Regions from separate parts of the Homo sapiens genome. Here all the other regions are linked to region 3. The links come from fine-mapping of genetic effects on gene expression. A gene starts in region 3. Each other region holds a variant in brackets. All regions are shown on one strand. Distances are from middle to middle.

Region 1 (4,229 bases), 44 kb before region 3:
GCAATCCAATCTTGCATTTTCTAAGCAAAGAATGTGGTAAGAAGCATTCTGAGAGACAGTCTTACGTGGCTGTACAGTCATTAAATTTTCTGGCTGGAGTTGCCATATTTATTTATTTGTTTATTTATTTATTGAGACAGGGTCTAACTCTGTTGCCCAGGCTGGAGTGTAGTGGCATGATCTTGGCTCACTGCAACTTCTGCCTCCCAGGGCTCAAGCAATTCTCCTGCCTCAGCCTCCCGCGTAGCTGGGGTTACATGTGGGTGCCACCATGCCCTGCTAATTTTGGCATTTTTAGTAGAGACAGGGTTTCACTATGTTGGCCAGGCTGGTCTTGAATTCCTGGCCTCAAGTGATCCACCTGCCTTGGCCTCCCAAAGTCCTGGTATTACAGGATGGCAGAGCTGGAAATAACCTCAGAGAGCAATGAAGCTTTTCTGGGTTAAAATGTAGAAGTCATTAGTGCTGTTCACCAAATAAATTCCAATTCTCTGCCTTCTAGGCACAGAGTAAGATGGCACTTTCTGGCCCCCTTGGGGTTGGGTGGGCCCACGTGATTAATTCTGGCCGATGAGCTACAAAGGAAACTTACATCTGTTGCATCCAACCCAGAACCTCCAAAGCAACACCCTGCAGAGCTGTCTCTTCCCTCTGGCACAGGAACCAGCAACATTCCAGATGGTGGCTGAGCTTAATGACCACAGTTCCCTACCAATCTATGATGAGTATATACCACAAACAAGGAAAAACCTTAGTTGTTTTAAGCCACTGAGATTTGGGGATTGTTTGTTACAATAACAACTTAGACTAAGATGACTGATACAGATATTCATTATTTCTTCCATTCCTTGTGTTTTGATGAAAGGGTTGTTCTCCCTTCTACCTGAGGCCCGTTGATCACATCCCTCCCACTAGCCCAGGCATTGTCCAACAGGTTATCTTCTGTCTCTGGCTTTCACGTGGAGCTCTTGACTTTCCTCTGCCTTCTAATGACTTCAAGGTGAAAGAAAGCGCTAGTTCAAACTCCTACTCCTGGCCATTCTCCCCCTTCCAGGCAGCAGGTAAACATGGAGTGGCTTGAGTTTCTACCATCTTCCAGAGATAAATGGGGATTTATTACCCTGGTTAACACTGTGGCCAGGTAAATCTACAAAATCCATCCAGTGCCTGCTTCAGTCACTGCCTGATATGGTTTGGCTGTGTCCCCACCCAAATCTCATCTTGTCCTGGGAGTGACCCGGTGGGAGGTCACTGAATCATGGGGTGGTTACCCCCATACTGTTCTTGTGATAGTGAGTTTCCACGAGATCTGATGGTTTTACAAGGGGCTTTTTCCCCTTTGCTCTGCACTTCTCCTTCCTGCCGCCATACGAAGAAGGACAGGTTTGCTTCCCCTTCTGCCATGATTGTAAGTTTCCTGAGGCCTCCCCAGCCATGTGGAACTGGGAGTCAATTAAACCTCTTTCCTTTATAAATTATCAGTCTCGGGTATTTCTTCATAGCAGCATGAGAACAGACTAATACACAGCCCAGCATATGTTAGACCCTCTCTGAGTCAATTCTCTTTTCCCCGTCTCTGATTTCCATAATGTTCTGTGGTACCTATTTACTGGTTTATATCCCCATTGCTTCCTCCTTCAAACTCTATACCATGGTTCACAAAATCCTGCATTCCATTATTCCCAAATTAATCCATATTATTCTTTGCCTCTTCAAAGAACATTTCTTTACCAACTCTTAACAGCTGAAACTAGATTTTCCCCAAGCCCTGGGCTTCCCTGTAGCCTTGTTGGTGATGGTTCCTTACAGCACTTGCCCACTGCCTGGGGCAGATACTGCGTTCATCAGGACTGCATTTTTGCCAGAGAGGAGTGAAAAAAGAAAAAAAGAGCTTAGGGTTTTGACAAGGACATCACTGCAACAATACATGATGTACTCTGAGTGGGGAAGTATGGAGGTGAAGAGCAGGAGAGCAATAGGCGAAAGTAGCTGGTAAAGTGAATGGAGATCCCAGCATGTTAGTGACTACAGTGAAAGTGTCACCTGGAGGATGGGATGTGGCCAGAAAATAGGAGGGCTGATATTGGAAAGCAATTTATCATATTAAAAACTCTGATTGTCAAATAAAATGTATCTGTGGATGACATCCTGCGAGCTACGTGCTTCTGGGGCCTCAGATCAATTCTTGTTTTAACACCTGTGAAGCATTTACTATGTGCCAGTTACCTACAATTCCTCAAAAGCCTTTCACGACCCCTCAGTGGGGCAGATGCCATTATTAAAATTAGTCTCGTCTTATCAATGAGGCACAGAGATATTAAGTAGGCCAGGTCTGAGACAATAACAAGCCCCAAGTCACTCTTGGGAGTGAATGGCCAAGCAGGGTGGAGGAGCTCCTTGGATATGAGGGCCCAGGTGTGGGGCTGGTGGCTGTGTGAGCATGGAATTCGCTCAGGACGATGGCAGGGCTTGGGGTGGAGGGGAAGGCCAGGAGCCAGGTGCCCAAGTTTGCAGTGAATGACGGGACTCCAATGGGGTGAAAAGAGATTGGAGGATGACAGAGGTGAGAAGAGGGAGAGGACAGTCAGATGACCAGGGAGTGCTCCCAAGGAGCACCATTTTGGACA[A/C]GAGGGAGGAGAAGTAGAGTGTGGACATGGCCTGGGAGAACACTGCCCCCAAATTCTGATTGACACACGAGGGACATATAGAAATGAGTGGCTTTTCCCTCACAGGCCTGAGGATGAAATAGCACTATTCTCAGGGGTAAGGTCGGGGGAGGGCAGAGCTCCTCCAAGAAGTCAGGCACATGCTGGAGGCCCAGGAACAGGTTTGGGGGTGAAGAGGAGTGGAGAACATCACTGGAAACTTGTCCTAGGCTGAGTTCTCCTTGGTTCATCAATGGGAGAAACAGCAGTGACAGGCTAGTAAGTTTAGTCCTGAATTTAGTCTCTTTGAGGGAGGACAGGCATGGCCTTGGTGTGATCGCTATGGAGGCAAAGATGTGGCAGTTGGAGACTGTCACTCAACTGTGCTTCCTGCAGTAGCTTCTATGAATGAGCTTGGAGAGGCACCACTGCTGGTCATTTGGGGCCTCACAGGAAAGGGGTTCTGCATCCCAAACCCAAAGAGTTACGGGAGATGGCTCCAAAAGAAGCCATCTTACAGGGAAATGAGACTGAGGCCCCAAACCTTTCTCAAGCATCTTCAGTAAAGGTCCTTCCTCAGAAAGTGAGTGCCAGTCACGTGGGCAAACACCAGCTGATGACTGTCACCTTCCTGTCAAGGACACTGGCTCCACAGGGACACCACTGGGAAAGCAGGGGAAGGACAGAGCGCAGTGAGGAAAATGCCGGCATCTTCACAAGATTTGGGCTGTGGCTGCCTGCACATTGGGGCTGGCTGACAGCAAACAGGCAGGAAGCATCTGAGCGGGTCTTGTTTGTGGTGTTTTTTTTGTTTGTTTTTTTTTTTTGAGATGGAGTCTCGCATTGTCGCCCAGGCTGGAGTGCAGTGGCATGATCTCGGCTCACTGCAAGCTCTGCCTCCCGGGTTCACACCGTTCTCCTGCCTCAGCCTCCCGAGTAGCTGGGACTACAGGCAGCCGCCACCACGCCCGGCTAATTTTTTGTAATTTTAGTAGAGAAGGGGTTTCACCATGTTAGCCAAGATGGTCTTGATCTCCTGACCTCGTGATCCGCCTGCCTCGGCCTCCCAAAGTGCTGGGATTACAGGCATGAACCACCGCGCCCGGCCCCCTTGTTTGTGTTTTTATTTCTTGTTTTCCTTTTGTTTTTTTGAGACATGGGGTCTTGCTTTGCCCAAGCTGGAGTGCAGTGGTCTGATCACAGCTCACTGCAGCCTTAACCACCCAGGCTCAAGCGATCCTCCTGCCTCAGCCTCTCCAGTAGCTGGGACCACAGGCATGTACCACCTCACCTGGCTAATTTTTTTATTTTTATTTTTTAGAGAGATACGGTTTCCCTACGTTGCCCAGGCTGGTCTCAGACTCCTGGGCTCAAGCAATCCTCCTGCCTCAGTCTCCCAAAGTCATCCGAAGGTTTTGAAGGAAATATATGGCCAAAGAAATTCCAAGGTGAGTCTGCTAAAACTTGGGGTTGTTCAGCCCCTGAAGGAAGTGCTGAGCCCCAGCACCTGCACCAGCATGAAGAAGGCTTCAGAAACTGCAAAGCCCCTGGAGGGGGCAACCTCTGAGGCACATTTCATACAAG
Region 2 (4,230 bases), 33 kb before region 3:
TGCAGCACTATTCACAACAGCAAAGACTTGGAATCAACCCAAATGTCCATCAATGATAGACTGGATTAAGAAAATGTGGCACATATACACCATGGAATACTATGCAGCCATAAAAAAGGATGAGTTCATGTCCTTTGTAGGGACATGGATGAAACTGGAAACCATCATTCTCAACAAACTATCACAAGGACAAAAAACCAAACACCGCATGTTCTCACTTATAGGTGGGAATTGAACAATGAGAACACTTGGACACAGGAAGGGGAACATCACACACTGGGGCCTATTGTGGGGTTGGTGGGGAGAGGGGAGGGATAGCATTAGGTGATATACCTAATGTAAATGACGAGTTAATGGGTGCAGCACACCAACATCGCACGTGTATACATATGTAACAAACCTGCAAGTTGTGATCACATACCCTAGAACTTAAAGTATAAAAAAAAAAAAAGAAGATAGGGTTAGAATTAGGGTTAGGAGAACCCAGAGGAGAATAATAAGGTGGGGGCACGGCTTTGAGGGTCTTCATTCATTTTTATCCATCCTTAGACTTTCTGCAGACTAAGCTTCAAGTTTTCAACTGCTGCTACAACAAATTATCACAAATTAACAGCTCAAAATAACACACATTTATCATCATAGTCCTGAAGGTCAGAAGTCACGAATGGCTTAGAAGGTTTCTCTGCTCTAGGTCTCACAAGGCCAAAATCAAGGTGTTGGCTGGCTGGGCTCCTATCAGGAGGCTCCAGAGAGAAACCGCTTCTAAGTGCATTCAGGTTGCTGGCAGAATCCAGTTCCTTGTGGTTGCAGGCTGGGCTTCAGCTGGGGGCCACATTTAGCTCCTGGAGGCCTCCCTCCTGTCCTTTCATGTGGCCACCTGTGTCTCAAAACCAGCAGTGGTTTGTCAAATCCTCCTCATTGTCCAACCCCCCGCCCCGCCCCGCCCCAGCCACAAAGCTGTGAAGCTAGGGTCCAAACCCCCCACATCTCAGAGTCAGCACAGGCAGGACCAGTCATCTCCTGCTTGGAATAGCACGGATTTCTTCTGCCAAATCTCTCTTCTGCCTTCGTTTTCTATCTCTGACTCCAGCCTAGGAGCGTTTTTCACTTTAAGGACTCAGGATTAGGCTGGGCCTACCTGGATAATCCAGGCTATTCATTCTCCTTAAGACCCTTAACTTTAATTACATGAGCAAAATCCATTTTGCCATGTAATATGATATATTCGTAATTACAAAATATGTCATATAATTTATAACACAATCACAGGTTCCAGGGATTAGGATGTGGACTTCTATGGGGGTCACTCTGCCTGCCACACCTCCCTAGAGGTGATGGTACCCAACTCCACTAAGTTCAGGTGGTGGCACAGGCCAAGAGAGCTACCCTCAGGCTGATTGGCCCTCAGTCCCCCAGCCAGCAGGTTGTGAAGCCAGGGTCCGAATATTGGATGTAGTTCCCACACGACTCTGAATGCACTGTGTAGTCTAATGACTGTCATAGTAGCGATGCCACCTGCCTCTGCCTGGTGTTTTGGCAACTGTACAATGCACTGTCATGCCTTTTTTTCTCACTTCTCTCACAGTCACAGGGGCCTACCAGCTCCATTTCACCCCTAGAGAACTGAGTTTCCAATCAGGGGCACTTGTGCAAGCAGGGTCTCCCCAGTCTTTACCATTAGCCCGTTTGTGGGCCACAGACCAGGAATATAAACGTATCTTTTTTTTTTTTTTTTTAGACAAAGTCTCAGGCTAGTCACCCAGACTGGAGTGCAATGGCTGGATCTCAGCTCACTGCAACCTCCGCCTCCCGGGTTCAAGCGATTCTCCTGCCTCAGCCTCCCGAGTAGCTGGGACTACAGGCATGCGCCACCACCCCCAGCTAATTTGTGTACGTTTAGTAGAGACGGGGTTTCACCATGCTGGCCAGGCTAGTCTCAAACTCCGGACTTCAGGTGATCCGCCCACCTCGGCGTCCCAAAGTGCTGGGATTACAGGCCTGAGCCACCGTGCCCGGCCTTAACATATCTTCTACCCCCTCCAGACAGCATTCTTTAGGGTAAACAAAATGTACCGAGCCCCTGCTGGGCAGCCAACCCTGGCGGAGACGTGCGGACAGATTCTACCTTCAAAGAGCTGTCCTGGGAAATGCCACTGTTTGGTAACAATTTTGTTTCCAAAAACCTCGCCTGGCCTGTGTCGGGCCGGCGGAGACAAGCCAGCGGTTCCCTGGCGAGGCGGGGACGGTTTGAGGTGCAGCCGTGGGTTTCGTGGCCCTGGGTCACGGTATTCGGTGCAACCTTCCGTTTCTGGTGCAAAAATCACTCGCAACTGAGTGTTAAAACCCCAACCCTGGAATCCCTCTCAGACTCCACCCCAGAGCCCGCGCAGGCGAGGGCGCGTGGGGGAAGGGGGACGAGAGCGCGCCATGGCGCCTGCACGATACGGGACCCCGCCCGA[A/G]ACCCCCGTGGGCGCGTGGCAACCTGGAGCTGCCGTGAAAGGAGCTTCGAGGAGGCCCCGCGGCGGCTGGCAGCGGGAAGGCCATTTGGGTGTGGCCTTCGCTGTTTCAGGGCTGAAAGTTTTAGAGTAAAATTTTATCTAAACTAAAAAGGAACTTCAAGAACTTGTCGCGGGTGACAGCGAGGTGTCCGCGCACGGCTGGTGGGTGCCCGGCTGGCCCGGGGCGGGAAGGGGCGGCGGCGCTGTGGCCTTGCGTTACCGTGAGGAGGGCCTTGAGTGGGTTGTCCTGGTCCTTGGCCTTTTGAACAAAGCATTGAACAAAACGCACAAACAAAGTAACAAAGGAATGAAACGCAGGAACAGAAGCAGGGAAAGCAGCAATTTCTTAAAGCGAGAAAGCACCCACAGGGTGGGAGCGGGCCCGAGCAAGCAGCTCAAGGGCCAGTTAGAAAGTTTTCTGGGCTTTAAGTACTTCATTTGAGGTTCTTACCAGCTACCTCTTATGTGGATGAAGGTTTTGGTTTGTGGCTAAAGGCTGGGGTGAACTGGCGCCCTATGCGGATGAAGGGACGGTCCCTGCATGGCTCTTGGCCACTCCAAGGCACGCTCCCTTTCCATCTGGGAGGAGGCTTGTAGGGAGAGTAGCCTTTGATGCTTTACTACTCCCAATGGGGAGATGGTGCTTTTCCTTTTGGTTTGGGAAGTTTGAGTTAATCAGCCTCAGATTCTCTGCCCCAGACCTTGGTGTTTTCCCTTGATTCAGCTTTAGGAAGTCAGCAGGAATCTGCCTTAAGTTCCCTACCTCCAGACCCTGTTCTCCTGCCTGACGTGGACACGGACCAGGCGAGAGCCCGCAAAGACCCAGGTGGCCCGGCGCCCCGCGTGGGCGGCGAGGACCTGGCCTCCCTGGAGTGCGAGCGTGCCCGGGCGCACTAGCGGGCCCGCAGGGAGCTGCTGGAGATCCAGAGCCTGCTCGACGCCATCAAGAGCGAGATGGAGGCGGAGGAGCAGGGCGCCCGGGCCCCAGCACCCAGCCCGCGCGCGGAGGCGGAGGATCTGGTGGCCAGGCTGTGCGCCGAGGCGGAGAGGAAGGCCGCGGAGGCGGCGCGGATGGGCAGGCGGATCGTGGAGCTGCACCAGCGGATCGCCGGCTGCGAGTGCTGCCGAGCCGGCGGGGCAGCGCGGGGTGGAGCTGAGACCGGCGGGGAGTTTCCCGCGTGGAAGGCGCTGGGCAGGCAGGGAGGGGTGCGTAGAGCCGTGCCACGCTCTCCGCCAAGGTATACTCTTTTTACGTAGGTAAAAGAAAATAATTTCATTTCTTAAAAAGAAAAAAAAAAGGAGAAACAGAAACCCAAAGACCTTTAGCAGTAGAACAATAAAGGGCATAGAGCTGCCATGTCGCTAAGGGGGTTAAACCATTTCTTCTATGCCGTAAAGCTAAATATCAGGCGGAGAACAAAATTTAAAAGTGTGTGAGTCGGGCGCTGTGTCTCATGCCTGTAATCCCAGCACTTTGGGAGGCTGAGGCAGGAGGATCACTTGAGCTCAGGAGTTCGACATCAGCCTTGACAACATAGTGAGACCTCTCTCTACCAAAAATAAAAAACAATTAGCCAGATGTGGTGGCACACACCTGTGGTCCCAGCTCCTTGGGAGGCTGAGGCAGGAGAATTGCTTGAACCCGGGAAGTCAAGGCTTCAGTGAGCTGTGTTCAGGTCACCGCACTCCAGCCTGGGCAGATTGAGTCACCGTCTGTAATTTAAAAAAAAAA
Region 3 (4,221 bases):
TGATCATTGTCACTGGTTCCTAGGAAACTGACACTCGGGTCACAAAACTTGTCCAAGGTGTCACAGAACAAATAAAGGACAAAGCCAGGGACCAAACTAAAGTCAACCTCTGCCTTTCTACAATGCCAGGCTGCTCACCGTCAAGCAACTTGGCGGTGTCACCGAACTCTGCACCGGTGTACTGAGGTGAACAGCATCCCCCAAAATTCATGTCCTTCCCAGGACCTCAGAATCCAGCCTTCTTTGCAAATCAGATCATTGTGAAAGTTCTAAGTTAAAACGGGGTCATGCTGGGGTAGGGAGGGTCCTTAATTCAATATGACTTGTGTCCTTCTGAGACACAGAGGCACATGGGGGGCCAAGTGACAACAGAGGCAGCGATTGGAGTGCAGGGCCACAGGCGGAGGAAGGCCGCCAACCACCGGAGCTGGGGACGGGCAGGGAACAGAGTCCTGCTCTGAGGCCCCAGAAGGAGCAACCCTGATGACGCCTTCATTTCTGCCTTCTCGGCTCCAGAACCAAGAGGGAGCCCATTGCTGGTGTTTTCGGCCCTCCAGTTTGTGGTGATTTGTTCCACAGCCCCTAAAAAACAAATACTACCGGTTGGGAATACTCAGTCACCAGCAACAAGAATCCCCACAGCGTCTCCACGTGGCTGCACGTAGCCGAGGGAGATCACGCCCAGGATTCCTGCAGGAAGAAAGCAGACGGCTGAGAGCCTCCTCTTTGTATTCGGCAAGACCAGGCTCCGTAGCCCTCAGGGAAACATTCGACCACAACTGTGGTGTGTGGGCCCCGCTGTTTGCTAGAGAGCCTGAGAGATGAGTCATTGGTTTCTAGCCTGGAGAAAGACGCCTGCGAGGCGAGACTGTCAGGGTCTCTGCCGCCCTCCCCAGGAGCTGTGTCCCTGAGGTGAGACGCCACCCCTGCCCTCACAGCTACCCGGTGCATGACCCCTGTGTCCAGCCTGTCCCTGAGAAACTGATTTCCTCACCTCTCTCAGCCTCCTCCCTCATCAAATATTTGTCGGAGGCATTATCAAGGATCAAACCGGTTTGATCCAGTGCAGTGCAGGAAACGCGGGCAGGGTGGAGGGGCCTGGGCTTGTTGACCAAGTTCCTCGCTGTGAGCCTCGGTTTCCCCTTCTGCAAAGTGTGGAGATCTCATCAGGTGATGAGTGAGGCCCCTCCTCCTCCTTCAGTTTCCTGCTCCTGCCCAGGCCTCCGCCAGCTCCCAGTGTCCTTGGGCGAGTGCTGCGGGGACCCTGAACCGCACATGGCTGGGGGCTCCTCACCCTGCAGCCCCTCACTGCCTCACCGTGCACATCCGCGTCTCACACCAGCGGCCATGTGGGCCTCAAAAGGGCAAACCTGACGGTGCCTCTTGTGGCTGATAACTCTCCAGACCATTGACCTGGCACAACAGGATCACCTGGGAGGTGCTGGGCCAGCCCAGCCACTGAACGGGCAGCTCTGCCTGGGTGCGGCCCAGCAAGAGCTAGTTCTTAAAATCACCTAGGAGCTCGGACGTGTGGCTGGCTCTGCGAGGCCCAGAACTACAGGATCAAGCCCCTGAGGGGCCTTCCCTGGTTGGTGCCCTCCTCCCCCTCCAGCCCATCTCCACCCTGGACCCCCGCTGCCCATCCCAACTTCTTGATTCCCCAGAGCACTGACTGGTTGTTTGTGCCTTGTTCCTCACTGTCCCACATCCCAAGGCACCGACTCCTCCAAGCCTGCCTCCCACTCCACTCCCACTTCACTCTCCCCATGCCCTTCCCGGGCATGAGTTCCTCCACCCCCCAGCACAGGCCCCGCCCTCCTCCTGGCCTCTCTGCTTCTCCCCTTCCCAGTCACCTCTTCCTTGCCACCTCCTCCATGCACATGGCGCCCTCTGTGGCTGGTACTCCCTGACACCAGGATCCCAGCCTCGTTCATCGTGCATCCCCCAGCCCAGCACAGGGACTGGAGAGCTTGGATCAACTTACAGCTCCCACCTGCTTGGGCCGGTGCTGGATCCTGGGCTACACTCGAGGGGCCGTCTGTCGCATCTGCTGAGCACAGATGTCTGGAGAAGGCCCCATCTGATCCAGATTCCAGAGGACAGAGGAGTCACTTCCAGAGCTGTTCCCATGACACTCAGGACAGGCTGGGCAGGCCAAGCCTCACCTGCCCCACTGCATAGCTTGTGTTTTCCTGAAACCTCCTGATCCCCACCTGGGCCCGACTGACTGGGGATGTCTCCTGCCTGCCCATCTCCGTGGTGATAGGGCGGCCTTGCCGAAACAAGGCCACATCCTGGCCTTCCCGGGGGTTGACTGCTGGGCCCCTTCCTGTCAGCGGTTGCTCTTTACCCTGGTTAACATGTAGAAGCTCGTGGTTCGAGCTCTTCATCTGGCCTCTTTTTTTTTTTTTTTTTTTGAGACAGAGTCTGGCTGTCGCCCAGGATGGAGTGCAGTGGTGCGATCTCAGCTCACTGCAACCTCCACCTCCCAGGCTTAAACGATTCTCCTGCCTCAGCCTCCCGAGTAGCTGGGATTACAGGCACGCGCCACCATGCCTGGCTAATTTTTGTACTTTTAGTAGAGACAGGGTTTTGCATGTTGGCCAGGCTGGTCTCGAACTCCTGATCTGAAGTGATCCACCTGCCTTGGCCTCCCAAAGTGCTGGGATTACAGGCGTGAGCCACTCCCAGCTGCCTCAAGGGCAACTCCCCGCATGGCAATAATCACGACCCCTACAGCAACATTCCTGAATAAAGTCAGAATAATTTTCTCTTTAACTGGTCCTCTGACTCAGAGGTCTGTGTTGAACCCTTTCTTGGAAAATGCCACCTCCCTCCTGAGAAGAGTCTCCAAGGGGGCTTGTCCTCAGAGTTACCCAGGTGAGCTACTCCAGCAGGGGCAGCCCTGGTGGTTTGGTGACACTCCAGTGGCCTGAACGGGTGGGGGAGTGCAGCAGTTTCCACCCGATGGATGTCCTGATCCTTCCTCCCACAGCGGTGAAAGATTAAAGTGAATAGTCGGGCATGGTGGAGCGCCCCTGTAGTCCCAGCTACTGGAGAGGCTGAGGTGAGAGGATCACTTAAGCCCAGGAGTTGGAGGCTATAGTGAGCTGTGATTGAGCCACTGCACTCCACCCTGGGTGAGAAAGCAAGACACTGTCTCTAAAAGTAAATAAATGGGGCCAGGCACGGTGGCTCATGCCTGTAATTCCAGCACTTTGGGAGGCCGAGGTGGGCAGATCACTTGAGGTTAGGAGTTCAAGACCAGCCTGGCCAACATGGTAAAACCCCATCTTTACTAAAAATACAAAAATTAGCTAGACAAGGTGGTGCATGCCTATAATCCCAGCTACTCAGGAGGCTGAAGCAGGAGAATCACTTGAACCAGGAGGCAGGGGTTGCAGTGAGCCAAGATCGTGCCACTGCACTCCAGCCTGGGTGATAGAGCGAGACTCCGTCTCAAAAAATAAATAAAAATAAATAAATAAATAAAAATTTTAAAACAAAGTGATGACCGGACTGGCCAACATGGTGAAACCCCCAAAAAATTAGCCTGGTGTGGTGGTACATGCCTGTAGTCCCAGCTACTCGGGAGGCTGAGGCTGGAGAATCACTTGAAACCGGGAAGTGGAAGTTGCAGTGAGCCGAGATCACACCACTGCACTCCAGCCTGGGCAACAGAGTGAGACTCCATCGCAAACAAACAAACAAACAAACAAAAAATATATGTGTGTGTATATCTATATATATATGTGTGTGTATATACATATGTGTGTGTGTATATATGTGTGTGTGTATATATGTGTGTATACATATATGTGTATATATGTGTATATATATGTGTGTGTGTGTGTGTGTATATATATATCTATATAACGCAGTGAATGCCCTTCCTGAGGAGCACTGCCTCTGGGGTAGGGAGCCTCCTTCTCTCTCCCACTTCTCTGGCTGGGGTGGTATGATGGTGGCCTGTGCTGTGCGACCTTATCCCAAGAGGGAACTGCCCAGCTCAGGAGTGAGCAGAATGGACCTGTCCCTGCTCCCCAAGGGGTCACCAGTGGGGCCAGTCTGAGCCTCCACTGCAGGACACCTGGGCAGAGGCAGTGTGTTCTGAGAAAGCCGGCTCTTGTGAGACCTGCTGCTGCCATCGTGCACCAAGGTTTTTCTATGTTGAGCCACAGCCCCGTGGGGAGAGTCTCGGCCCATGTGCTGGTGGAGGCT

The links. PIP is the estimated chance that this variant, and not a neighbour inherited with it, causes the effect.
Region 1: its variant is fine-mapped to the expression of LINC02481 in nucleus accumbens (GTEx, PIP 0.99).
Region 2: its variant is fine-mapped to the expression of LINC02481 in putamen (GTEx, PIP 0.95).

Annotation. Positions count from the first base shown.
Region 1 is chr4:6,644,760-6,648,988 of GRCh38, forward strand. No RefSeq gene overlaps it. Among named protein-coding and RNA genes, the nearest start is that of MRFAP1, 6.2 kb to the left of the region's middle. The variant A/C (reference allele first, on the strand shown) is at 2,628.
Region 2 is chr4:6,655,360-6,659,589 of GRCh38, forward strand. It overlaps the pseudogene LOC124900840. Among named protein-coding and RNA genes, the nearest start is that of LINC02482, 16 kb to the right of the region's middle. RefSeq lists a silencer at 3,425-3,584. The variant A/G (reference allele first, on the strand shown) is at 2,460.
Region 3 is chr4:6,688,315-6,692,535 of GRCh38, forward strand. It overlaps LINC02481 (long intergenic non-protein coding RNA 2481), which reads right to left and starts at 2,205. Exons shown (of 3, transcript NR_147207.1): 1 at 1,985-2,205; 2 at 995-1,145; 3 at 1-582. RefSeq lists enhancers at 275-1,474, 476-1,223.